Linked DNA regions of Homo sapiens: regions 2 and 3 are each linked to region 1. Evidence: fine-mapped expression QTL. A gene starts in region 1. Each other region holds a variant in brackets. All regions are shown on one strand. Distances are from middle to middle.

What was found. PIP is the estimated chance that this variant, and not a neighbour inherited with it, causes the effect. A credible set is the group of variants that fine-mapping cannot tell apart.
Region 2: its variant is the best candidate, but not a certain one, in a credible set for the expression of P2RY12 in whole blood (INTERVAL, PIP 0.67).
Region 3: its variant is the best candidate, but not a certain one, in a credible set for the expression of P2RY12 in whole blood (TOPMed, PIP 0.68).

The regions. Positions count from the first base shown.
Region 1 is chr3:151,382,343-151,388,306 of GRCh38, reverse strand. It overlaps P2RY12 (purinergic receptor P2Y12), which reads left to right and starts at 3,554. Exons shown (of 3, transcript NM_022788.5): 1 at 3,554-3,615. It overlaps MED12L (mediator complex subunit 12L), which reads right to left. Exons shown (of 45, transcript NM_001393769.1): 33 at 5,562-5,651; 34 at 4,419-4,528; 35 at 4,089-4,224; 36 at 3,116-3,277; 37 at 135-497.
Region 2 is chr3:151,358,936-151,364,899 of GRCh38, reverse strand. MED12L (mediator complex subunit 12L) reads right to left here. Exons shown (of 45, transcript NM_001393769.1): 21 at 4,295-4,426. All of the region lies in intron 1 of P2RY12 (purinergic receptor P2Y12), which reads left to right. Among named protein-coding and RNA genes, the nearest start is that of P2RY12, 23 kb to the left of the region's middle. The variant A/C (reference allele first, on the strand shown) is at 2,728.
Region 3 is chr3:151,411,311-151,417,274 of GRCh38, reverse strand. MED12L (mediator complex subunit 12L) reads right to left here. Exons shown (of 45, transcript NM_001393769.1): 41 at 5,768-5,964; 42 at 3,980-4,136; 43 at 853-963. Among named protein-coding and RNA genes, the nearest start is that of P2RY12, 30 kb to the right of the region's middle. The variant A/G (reference allele first, on the strand shown) is at 3,320.

The sequences.
Region 1 (5,964 bases):
GAAACCTGTTAGGAGAACTGTCATAACAAAACTTATCCTGCTCTTGGTAATGTTTCGAGGGATATGATTTGGGCACGAGTAAATCTCATACTAAATGCTAATGAGCCAAGGTTCTCCTTCCTTTCCCCACTTACATCAACTCTTGAGCTAGATTTCGTCTTGCGCTTCCTTCCTTTTGTTTTCTTTTCTTCATCTGTTGTGGTTTTTCCCTGATCTGACAGCTCAGCGGACTTCCTTTCTGGTTCCTGAGAAACTGGAGATGTGGGCTCTTCCTCTTCCTCCTCAGGAGGCAGGGGCAGTGGCTGGAGGTAGTAACTGCGGGGCTTGGGCATGGGGTGTGTGTGATACAGCAGGAGGTGATGCTGCTCCTCGTACTTGATCACTCTTCGGTCCACTCGGACTGTCCCAAACCAGGCCCAGGACAAAGGAGCTGGGTTCTTCTGACCCTCAAACAAGTCCCACGGGGACACCTTCTGCTTCGTAGAGACCTGGAGACCCTGTGGGAAAATAGCGCTCTAAGATAGCACACTCAGATCTTTTCCTTATTCATAGGCCAGGCTTGTATGGGACATGGAGTCAGAGAACACTTTGGCTGGCATGAGCCCTAGAGAACCCGAGAATACAGCAGAGAGGGTTACACAGCTACATCACCGGAGAGCAGTGGCTAGAATTCAGACCTTTGTAAGCCCGGTTCTACAGTTCTTTAACCACATGATGCTCTGTTTAGGCAACAGAGGCAGTCTAGCATATTTTATTGTTAATGTGTATTTCCTCTTTTTGCTAAAAAAATTCTAAAAATTTGTTGCTAAAAATTCTAACACTGCAAAGTTAATCTTACTAAATTATAACCAGTTCTAAATCTCTGTAATCTATTTATAATTTTGAAGATAATATCAAATTTAAGAGTCAAGTTATAGTCAACCTGTAATTGGGTTAGTATTAACTTCAATCCAAATCTGCATGAACTTGGTTCAATATGTGGGCCCTGTACTTAATAAGCCATACTCTGAATATAATATTATTATTAGAGAATTAAATTGTAGCAGCAGGAATAAGTAAAGTCTTTCAACTCAAGCTTATATTTACTGACTCTAGAAAAAAAAAAACGGTTACCCTCTTTTTATTCTTAACATTAATTGGTGACATCTCTTGGCACTTGCCTTAAAATGTCAATTTAAAAATATTTTTCCTTAAATGGCCCCCAAATAACTACTCAGTCATTCCCTAAGATGTAAGTGTTACTGTTGTTATCTATATGCATTCTTTTATGAGTAGCTTCATCTAAAACTAAGGTTCAGGCCAGGCACAGTGGCTCGTGTCTGTAATCCCAACACTTGGTGAGGCTGAGGCGGGTGGGATCACCTGAGGTAAGGACTTTGAGACCAGCCTGGCCAACATGGTGAAACCCCGTCTCTACTAAGAATACAAAAAAAGGCTAGGTGTGGTGGCTCACACCTGTAATCTCAGCAATTTGGGAGGCTGAGGCAGGTGGATCACGAGGTCAGGAGTTCAAGACCAGCCTGGCCAAGATGGTGAAACTCCGTCTCCACTAAAAATACAAAAATTAGCCAGGCATGATGGCAGGCACCTGTAATCTCAGCTACTCAGGAGGCTGAGGCAGAGAATTGCTTGAACCCGGGAGGTGGAGGTTGCAGTGAGCCGAGATCACGCCACTGCACTCCAGCCTGGGTGACAGAGCAAGACTCTGTCTTGAAAAAAAAAAAAAAACAAAGACAAAAACAAAAAAAAATTAGCTGGGCCTGGTGGTGCATGTCTGTAATCCCAGGTACTCAGGAGGCTGAGACAGGAGAATCGTTTGAACCCGAGAGACAGAGGTTGCAGTGAGCAAAGATCGCACTACTGCACTCCAGCCTGGGCGACAGAGCGAGATTCCATCTCAAAAAATATAAATAAACAAAGTAAAACAAAATAAAACCAAGGTTCAATTGCCACCTGTAAATTGACTGTTTCCTAATATTTGTCTTGAGATGAGAACTTTTTCCTTGGTGTAAAAACCACACATCCAAATGGATTCCAGATGTCTTACTACCAGGAAGTCCGCTGACACTGCAAACTCAAACTTGACCATGACTTTAGCTTTTTTTCTTTACACAAACTGGTATTAGATTCTCAGGCTACTCTAAATTCCCTGGTAAATCTGATTCTTTCATGTCTTCATATAAACTCTCCCTTTATTTGTACCACAATTTTCCCTACCTCCCAGCTAACTCTTAATCCTTCAAAATGACTCGTGTCAATTTTCCTGGGGACCCTCTATTCTATCCCCTAATACTCTCTCTGTACCATGTCACACAAATCTCATTACACTGTAATTGTCTGTCTACTTCCCCCTTGAGGGTAGGAACTCTGTCTTTCATCTTGGTGATTGTGGAATGTCGGTGGTTGCTTACTGTTCATTAAAAGAGTAACTGACCAATTTTCTCATATTTTAGAGAACCATCTTTAATATCTTATATAAAACAAATGTCCATTAAATACTGCTTGATAGGAATAGAGAATATCCTAACAATTAAAATAATTTTTATTTGAAATAGCTTACTACAGGAAGGTTTTTTTTTTTTTTTCCCCCCCCAGAGACAGGGTCTCACTTTGTTGCCCAGGCTAGGGTGTAGTGGCTATTCACAGGCATGAGCCTAGCACATTGCAGCCTTAAACTCCTGGCTTCAAGCAATCCTCCTGCCTCAGCCTCCCAAGTAGCTGGAACTAAAGACATGTGCCACCATGCTCAGCTTACAAGAAATTTTTCATTGATAAATATATTCTGCTTCTAAATCTGAAGTATAATCAGAACTTATTTATGCAATTTTTTTTTTACACTAAGCTTTTACTTAGTTTTCTCTTGGTAGGTTTCCAAAAATTTACTTAAATTCAGGGAAACATTTTAAGTCCTTTAAACATATAAAACGTAGATCTTCAAAGATATGACCTCTTTATATGATAATGCCAATGACTAAGTACACTTAGAAGACAAGCATATGCCTTAAAAACATCAACAGCAAAATTAATATATTTTATATATCCTATGGTAAGACAAAAAAAAGTATTTCATCTTTTGTAAATAAATTTATATATAAGAAAAAACATTCACTCTTGCCTGTTTTTTATCTATAGAGTCAAATCCAGCAATTTTGTTTCCTTTTGTGTCAATCAAGGAACCCATAGGTTCACAAGTGATGACATCACATGTCTGTTTCGGCAAAGGTAGTAACTGTCGAACTTTGTCAATACTTTCTGATCGCTTGTCTCCTAGCTCTTTCTAAAGAAAAAAGAGAGAGAGAGAGAGTGAGAAGTGGGACAGAAATTACAATGAAGGCAAAAGTTAACCAGAAGGAAGTTCCCCTATGAAACATTTCCCTTTTTATAGCTTAGCGCATGTTCTTTAACCCTGAACATGTTCTACAAGGCAGTTCCAAATAGAGCAATGAGTGTTTCATTTCTTCTATTTAAGTAGAAAATAGAACACATACAAAGGCACTGTTGTTACACAACAAACATCATAGTGCTGAAATGACAAAAATCCAGGGTAGTGATCACAATCAGAAGACAGGAGCTGCAGAACAGAACACTTTCTCATGTCCAGGGTCAGATTACAAGGTAACCATTGATTTATTTGATTGGTAATGCATCAGATTTATTTGGTTTCTTTTTTGCACTGTTTTCTTACAATTTTTTTTTAAAGGAGTCTGTTAGTGGTCGGTCAAATGAATCGATTTATAAATTTCAATGCAGATGGCTATTTTTTCAATTACACGTGCCAGTCCAAGCATAGAGTTATCCTAAATCTATCTAATGTTAGTATTCTGGTTATATATTTAACAGTGGATTTCTAAAGTTCTTTAAAAAATTAAACATGTTTTATAATGTAATTGTTTTCAATAAAAAATAATCAAGGTTATGTGCATGTAACTTCTGGGTACTAATAAGGTTAGGTGAAACAAATAGCAAATAATCACATTAAATTAAGTTGAATACAATTAATAACATTTAATGAGTAATAAATTAAAATGCACTAGATAATAAATCCATAAACAACTTGAGCTCATAATACAGGCTGATCTCAAACTTACTTTCAGTTTCTTTACTAAATTCATGTATGCACGCTTGTTCTCTTCAGATCCCCCAGGGGATGCATTTGATAGGTCAGAGGCTAACGTTCCATTGATTAAAACACCCAGCATGTCAAGAACTGTTGTGAATAATTCACTAAGAAAGAAAATAATTATTTTCATCTTAAAGTGAAACTGAAATACACTTATTTAACTGAGTATTTTTATTCAAGGCACAGAATTTTTAATAGCATCCAAGTAAATAAGATGTGGCAGAAATCGCCATCAGTATATCAAAGCTTATACCATGCATACATGTAGCAAAATCAATGTGAAGTGATAAAAACATACTTGTTAGTGTGCATGTCAACAGTTCCTGAAGTAATGATCTGAAGGAGTAGCAGGGCCCAGTCTGTAGTCCACTGGGTGCTCCTCTGCACCGTGTCAAACATTCCTCCTACCTAGCAGACAAAATACAGTAAGATATTTGCATTCTGTAAAACAGAAAGAACACCCCATTGCTTTATGTTATCAAATTTTGATTGTTTTTTATTTAAAAAAACAAGGGATGCTCTAGTTTATAGATTACCTTATCTTTTCTCTTTTACCTACATGTTTATCACTATTTTTAGTTCTTTCAGCACAGTTCAGTCATTCAAACATTAACTAAAATGAAGAAGGGACGTGAGTATCTGAATGTGGGCACCAATAAACTTAGCTTTCTTTTGTTCCAAATCTTTTATGATGTCCAGTTTTATGATGCAATTATAGTTGAATTAAACCTGAATAATGTCAAAGTCATGTAATCCAATTATCTGCATCTTTGTGTTTGCTGTACAATTACTATTGAATCTAAGCCTGCTATCATAATACCATATGGAAACATCCACTATCACAGCAGTGGTGGGCAGGAGGCTTGGCCCGCACACCTACCAGTTCACGTGTTGGGACAAGGTTAGAAACAACTGCAAAAGTATCAGGCAGGCCATCCTCCAGAGGGGCCTGCACTTGGGCCTGCCTGATGGGAAAAGAAAACTCAAGGAATGCACAATATGTGAGACATTTTAAATTTCTATAAAACTTCTCTGTGGGATTTGTCTTTATAATCAATTTGATGGAAAGTTGGACAAAACTTTGAGTTAAAAGACTTTTTAAATGGTTTTAAGTAAGTATAGTAGAAGCTAACACTTATAACAGTCTTCTCAGATTTATTCTTAGCACAAACTGAAGAGAAGGAGAGATTCACTGGGGTAGAGGTAGAGAAGGCAAATCTATGCTTAAAATACCTAGCACTGTCTAGATGTCTGACCAGACAGGAAGGAAAGCAGCAAGGGAAACAGAAGGCTTTAGAAACAGGGAAGTAATTACAGAGAGCAAAGAGTGGAAGGCCTCACCTTGTAATGCAGACTTTGCACTTAGGAGAAGTGGAAAGCTGGAGGTATTTTCACATGTAAATATGTTTAATGGAGGGAAAATACTAGAAATGTCACTTACCAAATTTAGGCGGAGTTGCAATGCTTCGTGCATCATCTGCCGCGCTTTTATGTCATCTTGGTATCGTTCTTCTCTCCAGTTACTTAAAATCTAAGATCCGGAAAAAAACTCCCCATTAAAGTTTAATTTTTCTCTCATTTAAAGATAAATTGAGCTTTATACTGATAGCAAAAAACCACTTCTTATCTTTAACAAATTAACAAACAAAGCTAAATAAAATTTTAGCTTTCTTCTTCCTCCATGCAGAAAGAAATCTGGCTATTTATTTGTGCATTTGCCGTTCTAGGTGGAGGAAGAAAATCTTATATAATTATATAGCTAGCCTATGATTAAGTCTGGGAAAATGCTTGAGAGGGCCATCAAATTAAGCATTAATAAAAACTTTTAAAATACATTACCTCAT
Region 2 (5,964 bases), 23 kb after region 1:
AAATGGCAGGAACTGTAATGCATTCCTAGAGAAGATTCACATTATGAGTTCTTAATTAGAACTTCTTACTAATTGGCGCTAATCAAAGTACTTTGGAATGTAGAAATTCCTCAATAAATAATTTCTAAATAGGTGGAAGAACAAAACAGAAATGAAGTATTTGGTTATAAATCTTAATTATTTCCTAAATATGGTCTACATTTTACATGCTTTAAAAATCAAAGAAATTACTATGGCTTCCAACAACTGTGTCTTAACAGTTGTTGAAAAGTGTTATTACTTAAAAATAAAAAAAGATTCAATTACACATAAGAGTACTCTTAATTACATATCTTACAAAACTATTTCTCTGGTATAGTGTACGCAGTAGAAGTTCGTGTGCCAAGACTATTCTGGAGACTATGGCACAGCTGTGAAAAAGAGAGGCACATTCCTTGTCTTCAATGAACTTACATTCTAGTAAGGGGATATGGATAATACACAAATTCTATGGAAGTGAAAAAACTATTATATCATTCATAAAAACTTATCATGTTGTATTTCTCAGAGGCATTAAGAGATTTTTAAAGAGCCTGCTCTATCATATAAAAACAGCTCATGTTTCAGTGAGTTACGTCTGAATCAGATATAGACTACTAGAAGTATAACAGGAATTAGAACCTATCTCCTCCAAACCTGCTCTGTGAATGAGACTGGCAGAAAGATTTGATGTAAAATCTCAGATTCTATATAAACTTAGCCATTTGTGCTTACCTTCTGTAGGTAGCATATCCATAAACAACATTCACTCTCTCTACTCAAAAGCTCTTTTATGCATCAGAAAGTCTGTTTTATAGATTAAGTTTTTGGCAGCAAAAGTATTTGTGGTTTGTGGTGACCTATGGCTTTTTTTTTAAACCCCATATTGTTATATACTTGCATCAATGGCAGCCAGGAATGAGTCCCTCGAAGATGAAAAGTCACAAAGACTCTCTATTCTAAACTATTGCCACTGTCAATAGCTTTAAGAAAACAGAGATTGTTCAGTTCAATGTTTACCAAAATGTAGTTTCAGCTCTATTCCTTGAGAATCACTTTTGGGGTGTTTGTTAAAAATATAGAATCCTGGGCCTCCACTGTGGGTGTATAGAGTCCGTATGTGTAACAAGATCTCCCACATAAATCAAGTGCCAAGTAATGCTTGGGAAGCACTACTCTAACAAAGAGGACTAAAGTCATCTACTAAATGGCAGCAATTACAATCTTCTACACTCTCTTTCTGTGTAGACAACTTATATTTTAAAAAATGTGTTGGTTGTCATTGAAGGATACAAGTTTGCAATTCAGAGTCATGACATTTTCAGTTTCTTGAGGTTGATGTGAGAAATAAAGCTCTTGATGGAAATAACCCAGCACAGTGCTTGGCACACAGCAGTAGCTCAATCAGTGGTAGAGGTGACCAGTGTTGTATCTCCCCCAAATACTCCTCTCACACAACTGTGTGAATGGTGTTTCAGAAAAAAATACTCCTCTCACACAACTTTATGAATGGTGGTTCAGATAAAATTATTAAAGTTGTTTTATCAGCATACTGATAGAAATCTCTCTGTGTATCCAGCTTTTGTTTGCCCATTTTTCTTCATCTCAAACTACAAATAGGTCTCTGACTTCAAGATATCCCAAGAAAGTTGTATTTCTCTTTCATTTTTTCAAATAGAGGAAACTTTAGACAGTGCCAATCACTATGATGTGCCACTCTGCTGACCCCTGAGTAATTACTCTATTCACTGTGTGCTGGTACCCTAAATTTCCACACACCCCACGCCCAGCGCATGTTACTTGAATTACCTCATTTAACCTATTTGCACCACACTGCAGGAGTATTAAGGGTCAAATAGGCTACTGGGGCTGTCTGAGGAAGTTCACTATTAAAAAAACGGCTGCTGTAAGAACTAAATCATGTAAGAGAAAGCTCTTTGAAAAATGTAAGCTGAAATGGAAAGCTCTATGTAAAGTAAGAGAAGAATGTTAAGTATTTTTAAATTGTGACACAATTTCTGTGGAAAGATATTTCCTAAGACCCACTCAAATATTTCACAAAGGATTATTTTGAAACCTAACCCATTTCATATTTTCACACTTTATTAATACCATTAAAAACATGAATTGTCTTAGATATAACTATCATTCAACAGATTTTTTTTTCAGTGCCTACTAAGAGCCACATACTCTTCAAGACACTGGGATGTAGCAGTGAAAAAAATAGAAAAAGCTTCTGCTGTCATGAAGCATACATTCTAAGGAGGAGCCAGGCCATAAATAAATATAGAATCTACAGTGGGGGTAGCAAGTGCTGAGGCTCAGAATGATGACATGGGGGTGCTATTTAAAATGGTGTGCTCAGGGAGACAGTCGTGAGTGAAGTGTGGGAGTGGGGCACACAAGTAACTGAGGACAAGTATCACAAGCAACGTAAGATAAAGTGCAAAAGCCCTACTGTGGGTTGTTCTTAGAGTGTTTGATCAGTAAAGAGGTCTGTGTGGCCACAATAAACAGAGGGAAAGGGGTGGAAGAGAAGATGGGACCCTGCAGATCTTGAAGGCTAGGTAGGGATGGTGAATTTTATTCTGAGTGGGTGGAAAATCACTGAAAGCCTGTGAATCATTCGTATATTAAAAGGATCACTTTAGTGGATGTTGAAAATGTGTTTTAGAGTTAAGGGTGGAAGCAAGGAAACCAGTTAGAAGA[A/C]CTCTGCAATGGTCCAAGCAGAGGTATCCACAGCGGTAAAGAGAGGGTGAAGAATGGGCAGGTTCTAGAGATGCTTGGAAGGCAGAGATCACAGAATTTACAAACTGGATACGAGGTATGACAAAGGAAAAAAAATGGTAGTTGAACATCCTTTCCCTACCTCCTTCTGGATTCCAAATTTGTTTTCTTAGCTATTACCTTCTACCACTCTCCTCCTACCCATCTATAGTAAATAATTGTCCTCAAAATAACATTAAATAAGCATTTACTTTCCAGCCCTAGTGCTGCCTGTGGGGGTAGCAAGTGCTAAGATACAACGAATGACAGGAAGTTGGGGATGCTATTTGAAGTAGGAATGGCCATGGAAGCAGAAAGACAAACGGAGTGAAGAAGTCAGCATGCAAATAGCTCTGAAAGAATGTTCTGAGTGGGGTGATTTCAAGAGCAAAGCACAGAATATTGTCTCTCACACTTACAGTAATTTGTAATAAAGGTTATAGCTACAGCCAAAAATAATTCAATACAAATTCTGGATAAGAGTATTAAGAAAATAAAAATATTTATAAAAATACAACTTTCTGGACTCATTAAACAATAAAATATTCCTTCAGCAATAAGATGTATTGACAGGAATCAAATACTACTATCATTATCAGGTCATGAATTTTAAGTCTAAGATAGCAAGTAGGTTAACTGCAGAATTTACAGTACCTTTTTATGATTAATTCAGTTCTATTTTTTTCATACCAGGAAACATTAGATAGCATTTATCAAGCTGAACCTGAATCTAATACAATCTGTAATAGAAACCAGGTTTCCTACTTTTAATGCACATTGATTTAATGTTATTCAGTGAGGGTACTGGTCATTTTAAAAAAACTCATTAACACATGAAAAAGTTACCTGCTAAACAGCAAAATTGTTTTTGTGAAAAAAGAGGAAAAGTAAACACAGTCTGAAAAAGTTCTAGAAAAGTGAATGGGGCTATAGAACCTTCTATGAGTCACCAGGAAATAAAAAATGAAACACTGTAATGCCCAAAGGATATTAAAGCTAATCCAAGTAATGCAAAAAGTCAGCTCAGAAAAGGTAGATATCAAAATCAAGAGGGATACAAATAAAGCAAAATACAAAGAGCTGCCTCATTGATCTTTCTATTAGATTTATAATCCAAATTGAATTTTAAACTTAAAATGGAAAGATATATCAAATAATCATTACTTCAGTAGGACTTACTTAAAATGCACTGTCTGTACAACATATAGAAAATGTAAAATCTTAAGAAATACTTTATTTATTGAAGAAATAAAATCAGACCTAACATCATTTCAATATTGGGGGAAAAAAAACCTATGATCACACATTTACATTGTGTAATAGACTATCGTGTATTGTCCCTGTCTATTTTAATATTCAGTTTAAACAAATCATGAGTATATCAAAATTACTGCCTAATAGATACAATTGCAATTAGCTTTCATTATTCAAAAGGATGACAATATTGTCAGGGTCACTAACAAACATAGGCATGATCCTATTTCTGTCCTTTTGAGTCTCTTCTACTCACCTGAAGAGGTCTCCAAATTTACTTCTGAGGTGGCTACATGACACATAGAGATCATAGAGGTAGGCTAAAATGCATCTTTCAGGGGAAGAACATTCTGAGGGGTTTACGACATGCTTGACCACACCACACAACCTGAGGAGAAAAATATACGAAGAAATAAGACATAGATTTGTACTATGTGGGTTATCATTTGACTCTTTTAGAATGAAAATATGTATCACTTGGGTAAGAAAAAGGATATTGGATTGTTGAAACTAATAAATAGAATAGTAAATAACTCAGTACAATATAATTTTTCTATTATGACACTGAAATAGATTTTAAAAAAAACTTCAGAAATGTCACTGATGACAAGAAACAAAAGCAAGGAAAGAAATTCCTTCATAAAGAAGGTACGTATGGAGGAATCCACCGATTAAGTTGCTGGGACTGAGACACAAAAGGAAAACTGTTGTAGAGAGCCCCTGCCTCCGCAGATTCACAAATTCCATCAGCGTGCAAAGATTCCCAAGTTTTCTCCTTTGTAAAGGAGCAATGCTTCAAAGCAGTCAATCTGGAAAACCCATTTTCAAGTGCATAAGCAGTTCATGGTTTGGAGTCACATTCCCCTTATGCATGTATACATTCCCCTATGTATACCAACTAGTAATAAATTTATTTTAGTTTATCTTATATAAGAAGATAAAGCCCCTTCTGTTTTGTAATATTCTGTATAACTCCTGTAGTTATAGGCCTCTTTGTCCACAGTCCATACAACACAGAAGTCCATACACCACAGCTGTAAACACTTGTGGTCCATTCACCTATCTGTGCATCTGATTCCATCACCATCTTGTATTTTGTTACAGGGCTCAGCCATTATATTACACTAACGGAGTCACAGATGACAGATTATTAAAGACGAAAAAAGCTTTAGAAACTATCTGATTCACCATCCTTATTGTATAAAGGAGGCTCTGAGAGGCAGAAAGGTGGGGTGACTTGCTCAAAGGCAAAGAGCTAGTTCTAGCAGAAGCAAGACAACAGCTTAGGTTTCCAGACTCCCAGATCAAACTCCTCTGTACTATTCAGGGGAAAGGGCAAAGTGGAGAGAACATAGGATGTCTAGGCCAAGGAGGACAATGGAATCACAGGTACCATAGGTGGAACCAAGGAGACTTCTTGAGGAAATGGCAATGTAGTATCCCAAACCCTGTGAAATGACATCAACAGATGGGACTACCTAGCAGCAGGTAAAAGCTGCCAATTAGAACAAAAGTGTCACACAATTAAGAAGAAAAGTAATGATTCAACCTGTTAACTATATAAACAAGCAAACCAAAAACTATGCAGCCATAAAAAAGAACAAAATCATGCTCTTTGCAGCAATATAGATGTAGCTGCAGGCCATTATCCTAAGCAAACTAATGCAGAAACAGAAAGCCAAGCACATATTCTCACTGTAAGTGGGAGCTAAGCATGAGGTACACGTGGACATAAGGATGAGAACAACAGACACTGGGGACTACTGAAGTGGGGAGACAGAGAGCAGAGGAAAGGTCTGCAAAACTACCTACTGAGTACTATGCTCACTTCCTGATGGTTTCAATCATAACCTGAAACCTCAGCACCAAGCAATATACCTTTGTAATAAACCTGTAATAAATCTGTTCTAAAATAAAAGTTAAACA
Region 3 (5,964 bases), 29 kb before region 1:
AAATCCTGTGCTGAAGGCAGTCTACACTAGTGTTTCTCAAAGTGTGAGACATGAGCGGTCAGCCAGCTCATCGTAGGTAGGGCTCATTCATGCAATTCACATCACTCAGTTAAATGGAGATTCCCTTCTAAATTATTTTTGTATTTACTTTCACAGATATTTCCAATATGTGGCAAGTGATATAATTATGGATGGTAATGATAAAATGCTTCTTTGAAAACTACATTTATTTAAGCAAATATAATAAGATGACAGTTTAAAAAAAAGTAATTAATGAAACAGGAATATGGCTGTTGTAAATGACTGAGGTTTAGAAAACTTTGATGGCTATGCATATGACATTTCCAAATTTGATTTATGAAGCTAGAGAAGTGAACTATCCGACTGTGAGTTACATGAAAACTCTTGCAGCAAGTGCTAACTGAATGAAAAACAATTTCTTATTGAAGATAATAGATAATATTTTAGAAAGTGCGCCCATGGTTTTTGAGATTATAGTAAAAATCAAAGTATGGTAAGACACTCTTTTAAACATACATAGTAAATCATCGTTTTATCATTGTTTAGGAAAAAAAGACCACGTCTCAATGTAAAAAATTTTGTCTGTGGAACAGTCCGAAAAATTTTGAAGAATAATGGTATAACCTACTGAATCCCAAATATTTACTTGTATCTTCCTATGAAAATAAATATACCAACTACAATGACAATAAAACTCTAGTAAAGTTCTAGGAAAAATTTTTAGGGTATACTTAGGCTTTGTCGATTCTTAACAATCTTATGAACATGAACAATGCAACCTGCTTTTAAAGAAGAAACCCACATGTCTGATTCCAAAACAACAGGCCTTACCAAGGGCTGCTGGGGCTGCATTGCTTGGAGACCAAGGGTCTGACTCTGGGACTGCGAGGACTGCTGGGGCTGGGGAGGCTGCTGGGGCTGGGGCTGCTGGGGCTGCTGCATCTGGAAAGAGGGTAAAAATGTTATACACTTAAAAGGAAGAAGAAAACAGCATTGCTGAATCTGTTTCCCCCATATACCTTTTATCTAATTTTTATGTTGTAGTAAAAACAATATATACCTGCCTGCTGCATCTCTACCTTGCTGAACCTCATTCGTCCTTTTGAGGGCAAGACCTAAACCTGCTCATCCATGAAGCCTTCTAGGACCACCCCAACCCTACGGATCTCTTCCACTGGCAGTCAGTACTGCTGTCTATTCCACACTGCGCTGTCCGGGGCCATCCCTTCTGCTTACTGTTTTAATTCCTTTCATGTCCTTTGTCCTTCCGCATGTTTTATCCCTTCTTACACTACAGGTTGGACGGGGACTGCTCAGTAGTAATCCTCTCATTCTTTATGATATCTGGCAGAATTCTTAAAGGTTTTTTTTTGTTTTTTGTTTTTTTCCAAAAGGAAGAGGCAGACTAGTCGCCATGACACCTTCTGGCATAATTTACATCAGAAATTCAGAAATCATGTCAGTAACAGGGTTGGCTCAAACACACAGCTCTTGGAAAATGCTTCCAAGTCACAGAAAAAGCACAGACCAGACATCCACAAGGTGGGACACAGAGGAGAGAAAAATATTAATAGTTGTTTTGTTTTGTTTCAATGACCTTTAAAATTTCCTCCACCCAAACACTTCATCCTGATAATGATGACAGTCTAGACATTTCTTCATCTTTTGTACTTTTCCAACTTGGTTTGCATACTATCCCCTCAATTACTGGTCTGCTTTACAGCCAACTAATAAATAGCTATTGCCATATGGCATGTCTCACTAAGTGACAATGCTCATGGATCTGGAATCCTAGCAGAGGTCTGGGTAGCATGATCCCAACAAGAACAACGCAAGTTGGACCCAAATCACAATGACTGCAATATGATTCTCCAGTTAGCCCTCTAGAACCTCTTCTAAGAAAAATTAACCCAACTTCATCATTATTAACTTTTTCCTTTACAGAGGTGGCCAGTCACCAAAAAAGAAGTATAATCCTGTTGTAGAAGCAAATCACTTATCTCCAGGGAAGAATGTGTTGATGATGAAAAAATTACCAGAAGGACATATTATGCTAATTAGGATAAAAAGTACATATGGTCTAATAAGAAAAGGCTTTCCGTATTTGCAGCCTTGAAAAACACCAACATAAGATTTAAAACTGGTAAGTAAACAAATAATGTGGTAACTTTCCTCAGTGATTTGGAAATGAGAAATTCTAAACTAGAGCAAAATATAAATTATCAATCCTAAAAAATTCTGAAACATAGCCTCAGAACTTGGAAAAAATGATTTAAGAAAGTGAGTACTCATAGTAATGATAATAGTCATAACATTAATCGTAAAATTATCAAATGAGTGGTTTACTTGAATATTCTTATTTAATCCTTTCTACATATTTAAGAGATAGGTACTATAAGTATTTCCATGACAAAACAGGATTAGAGAGCTTTTACCATTGGAAACAACATCTATACAATGACTGAGATTGCTATCTGAAGGCCATACTCTCCTAATCGGTTACCACATGTTATCAATTTTGTGATACAACTTTTTTTTTTTTTAACATTTTTAACAGGTCACAAATTGGGATGGAACTAATGACATCTTACTACTAATGGCATCTTATAATTGGGAAGCCCAGTTCCAGAGGGTGTGTTGGCTTTTGCCTGTCACCTGGGCACTACCAACCAGAATTTTGTGGATCACACTGAATTCAGACTCAAACCCACCGGAGCTTGTGGTTCAAATGCTCAGGGGAGATATTTGTTTCTCCCCTCTATCCAGTGTCAAGGATAAGACATCCAAGCTCCTTTGTGTCCCTTTCTGCATGGCAGGTTTACTTCTCACTGACCTCATACCGAGTTGAGAGTACAGCCCTTGGGCACTCCAGCTCTACTAGATTCCTCATTTTTGGTGTTCTGTTCTTGGTAGTATATAAAGTAAGTGTGTATCTCAAGTTGGACTGCTGATAAGATTAGAGCCCACTGTACAGTCTCCTTAGGAAATCTCCAGTCCAATAACATAGGACAAGCTTGTTAATATTGAAGACAAATGACACAGGTAAACATAATGGCCTATATTTTTTAAATAAGCAAGTCAGAAACAAGAACATATCAAGGAAGCTGCGTGTGGTGGCTCACACCTGTAATCCCAGCACTTTGGGAGGCCGAGGTGGGCGGATCACTTGAGGTCAGGAGTTTGAGACCAGCCTGGCCAACATGGCAAAAACCCGTCTCTACTAAAAATACAAAAAAATTAGCCAGGGGTGGTGGTGGGCGCCTGTAATCCCTGCTACTCAGGAGGCTGAGGCAGGAGA[A/G]TCACTTGAACCCGGGAGGTGGAGGTTGTCCAGCCTGGGTGACAGAGGGAGACTCCGTCTTAAGGGGAAAAAAAAAAAAAAATGTATCAAGGGGAAGAACCCTTTATCTAACTGACTTAAAATGTACATCAAATAAGTGAATGACAGTTCTCTGGATTCTAACAAAGACAAGATGAAATATCCTTTGAAACAGTCTATGTTCCTCCCATTTCACAGCCTTATCAGACCAGAGGTGTTATAGAAATGTTTTTAGATTGCAGAATGCTCTAGGAATCTGATGAAAGCTCTGGATGGCTCAGTTTTTTGTTTTCACATTTATGACACTTTTAAAAAATTTGCATGGCTCCTACTTAAACAGAGACTGGGTAAGCTGAGGCCAACTCTATTAAAGGCATCCGTCTGCCCTCCCAAACCTTTGTGAAATGGGAAGAATGTTCTGCAAAACGTACTCTTCTGCCCATAACCTGGTAGATACACAGAGAAAATAAAATTCTTGCCAAGTTGTAACTAAATTGTACCAATGTAGCTCCTAGCATCAAATCCACAGGGATCCTTGGAATCTGGCAATTGACAACTATAGTGTTTTTCATTTTTTATGACTGTTGCATATTTGCACTGTCTGAAGGGTGATGGCATTGCCCTCATCTCCCTGCCCCGTACCTGGAGGAGTCTCTGCTGCTGTCGAACTTGCGGCTGTCTGGGTCTCATGGGATCCTGAGGCAGGGGCACGGAGGGAAGGTTTGGATGTGCAGAAGTCAGCACAGCATCAATTCCCCCGCCCACCAGAGGGCTCTGCTGTAGAGCCTGATGGTTCAGTCTGGCAAAGAATAATGCAACTTGGTTCAGGCCCAAGCATAATGTCAAACTTTTAATCAGTGCTACCAGCACATGACATACACCAACCAAGAAACAATCAGTGCTCAATAATCCTTTGCACAATTCAAATAGACTAAAGCCCAGTGGTTAAAATAATAGATGTGACCACTTGAAAAAGTACAGCAAGCACATGACTTAAGGTAAAATTGCAGTCATGCAATAAATCACTTTTTAAACATTTAATAGTTTTTAACAACGAGGAATATTAATTGAGCATTTACTTTGAAGCAGGCACTGTACTAAAGGTCTGAAATGTGTTACTTCATTTACTCCCCACCAGAGAGCCCTTTAAGGTCAGCAGTTTCGTTATCCCTACTTTAAAAATGAAAAAACAGAGCTAGAGGTAACTTATTAAGAAAGCAAATGGCACAGGTGGGATTTGAACCCAGAACTTTTGGGCTTTGAAATTCAAGTTTGTGGGCCATGCTATGCTGCTATTTATTATAAAAATTGTACATACAATGCACATTTTCCAAATTATTATCCAAAATATCTATTTTCTCAAATGTGTTACCATCAACCTTGCTAACTTTCCAAAGAGCGATTACTTGGAGTCGTCATGCAGCCATTGATGGTAACAGATGGGAGCTGTGCTGCTATCCACTAGATGGACACGTTTTACATGATGCTGCTAAGACAGTACTATCCAACAGAACTTTCTATGATGGCTGCAATGTTTTCTCTCTGCGCTGTCCAATAAGATAACTACTAGCCACAAGAACGAACTGCATAATTTTGGGGTCTCAGTGAATAACGAAAACACAAGGCTCCCTGATCAAAACTTAGTAAGAATTTCCACAGAGAAACTGCAGAGCATTAAACTAAGCATGAAGCCTTTTTAAACACAGGCCCTTCTAAACACAGTGCACGTCACACACCATTGAAGCTAGTCCTGCTGGCCACATTTGGCTACCACTGAACACTTGAAATGTGACTAGTGTGACTGAGGAACTATATTATTAATTTAATTTTAAATAGTCTAAATTTAAACAGCCACAGGTGGCTGGCAGCTACTACAACAGACAGTACAGTTATACACTCTAAGGGATCTAATTAAACAAGAACAGAAAAAAGTCTATCATAATCCTGTTTTGCCAAATATCTTTGAGGTGGAAAAGGTAGAAACTAAGTTATAACAAAACTCTCATGTGCACCATGCACAATTAGTATTGCAATCACACATTTTATTGCTCCAATCAACAAATTGTAGTAAGGCATTCCTAACAATAATCAAGAGTTTTCTCTGTTAGATATGTTCAGAGAATTTTTAAAAAAGAAGAGGAAAAAAAAGAACACTGAAGCAAACACACTATCACGTAAAGACTGTTACACTCATGTCTTGGAAGACATGAGTCAAAACTGTAAGGATCTTTAATGAAATAAACAAGATGGAGCATTCTTTATGTTGAACCTCTATCTGGATACTACTAAAAACGAGATGACAGAATGCAAATTATCTGCAAATATGCAAGCTCATAAAAACAATGATAAAGTACCATGCCCTATAAGAAGCATAAGAAACCCGAGAATGTGACTGTTCATTATTGCCATCATCATTTCCACATGTATCACCTCTGAGAGCCAGTCAGGGGCTGCAGGTACGGCGAGGCCTGCTGCTGAACATAGCCACTCGGCTGCTGCTGAATCTGTCTGAGTCTTTCCATTAGCACGGGGTTGGAATGTGCGGCCGGATAGGCTCTGGAGTTATAGCTGGGAGACAGGACCACACTGCCAGCCTGCTGCTGCGATGTCTGCTGCAAAGGCATCTG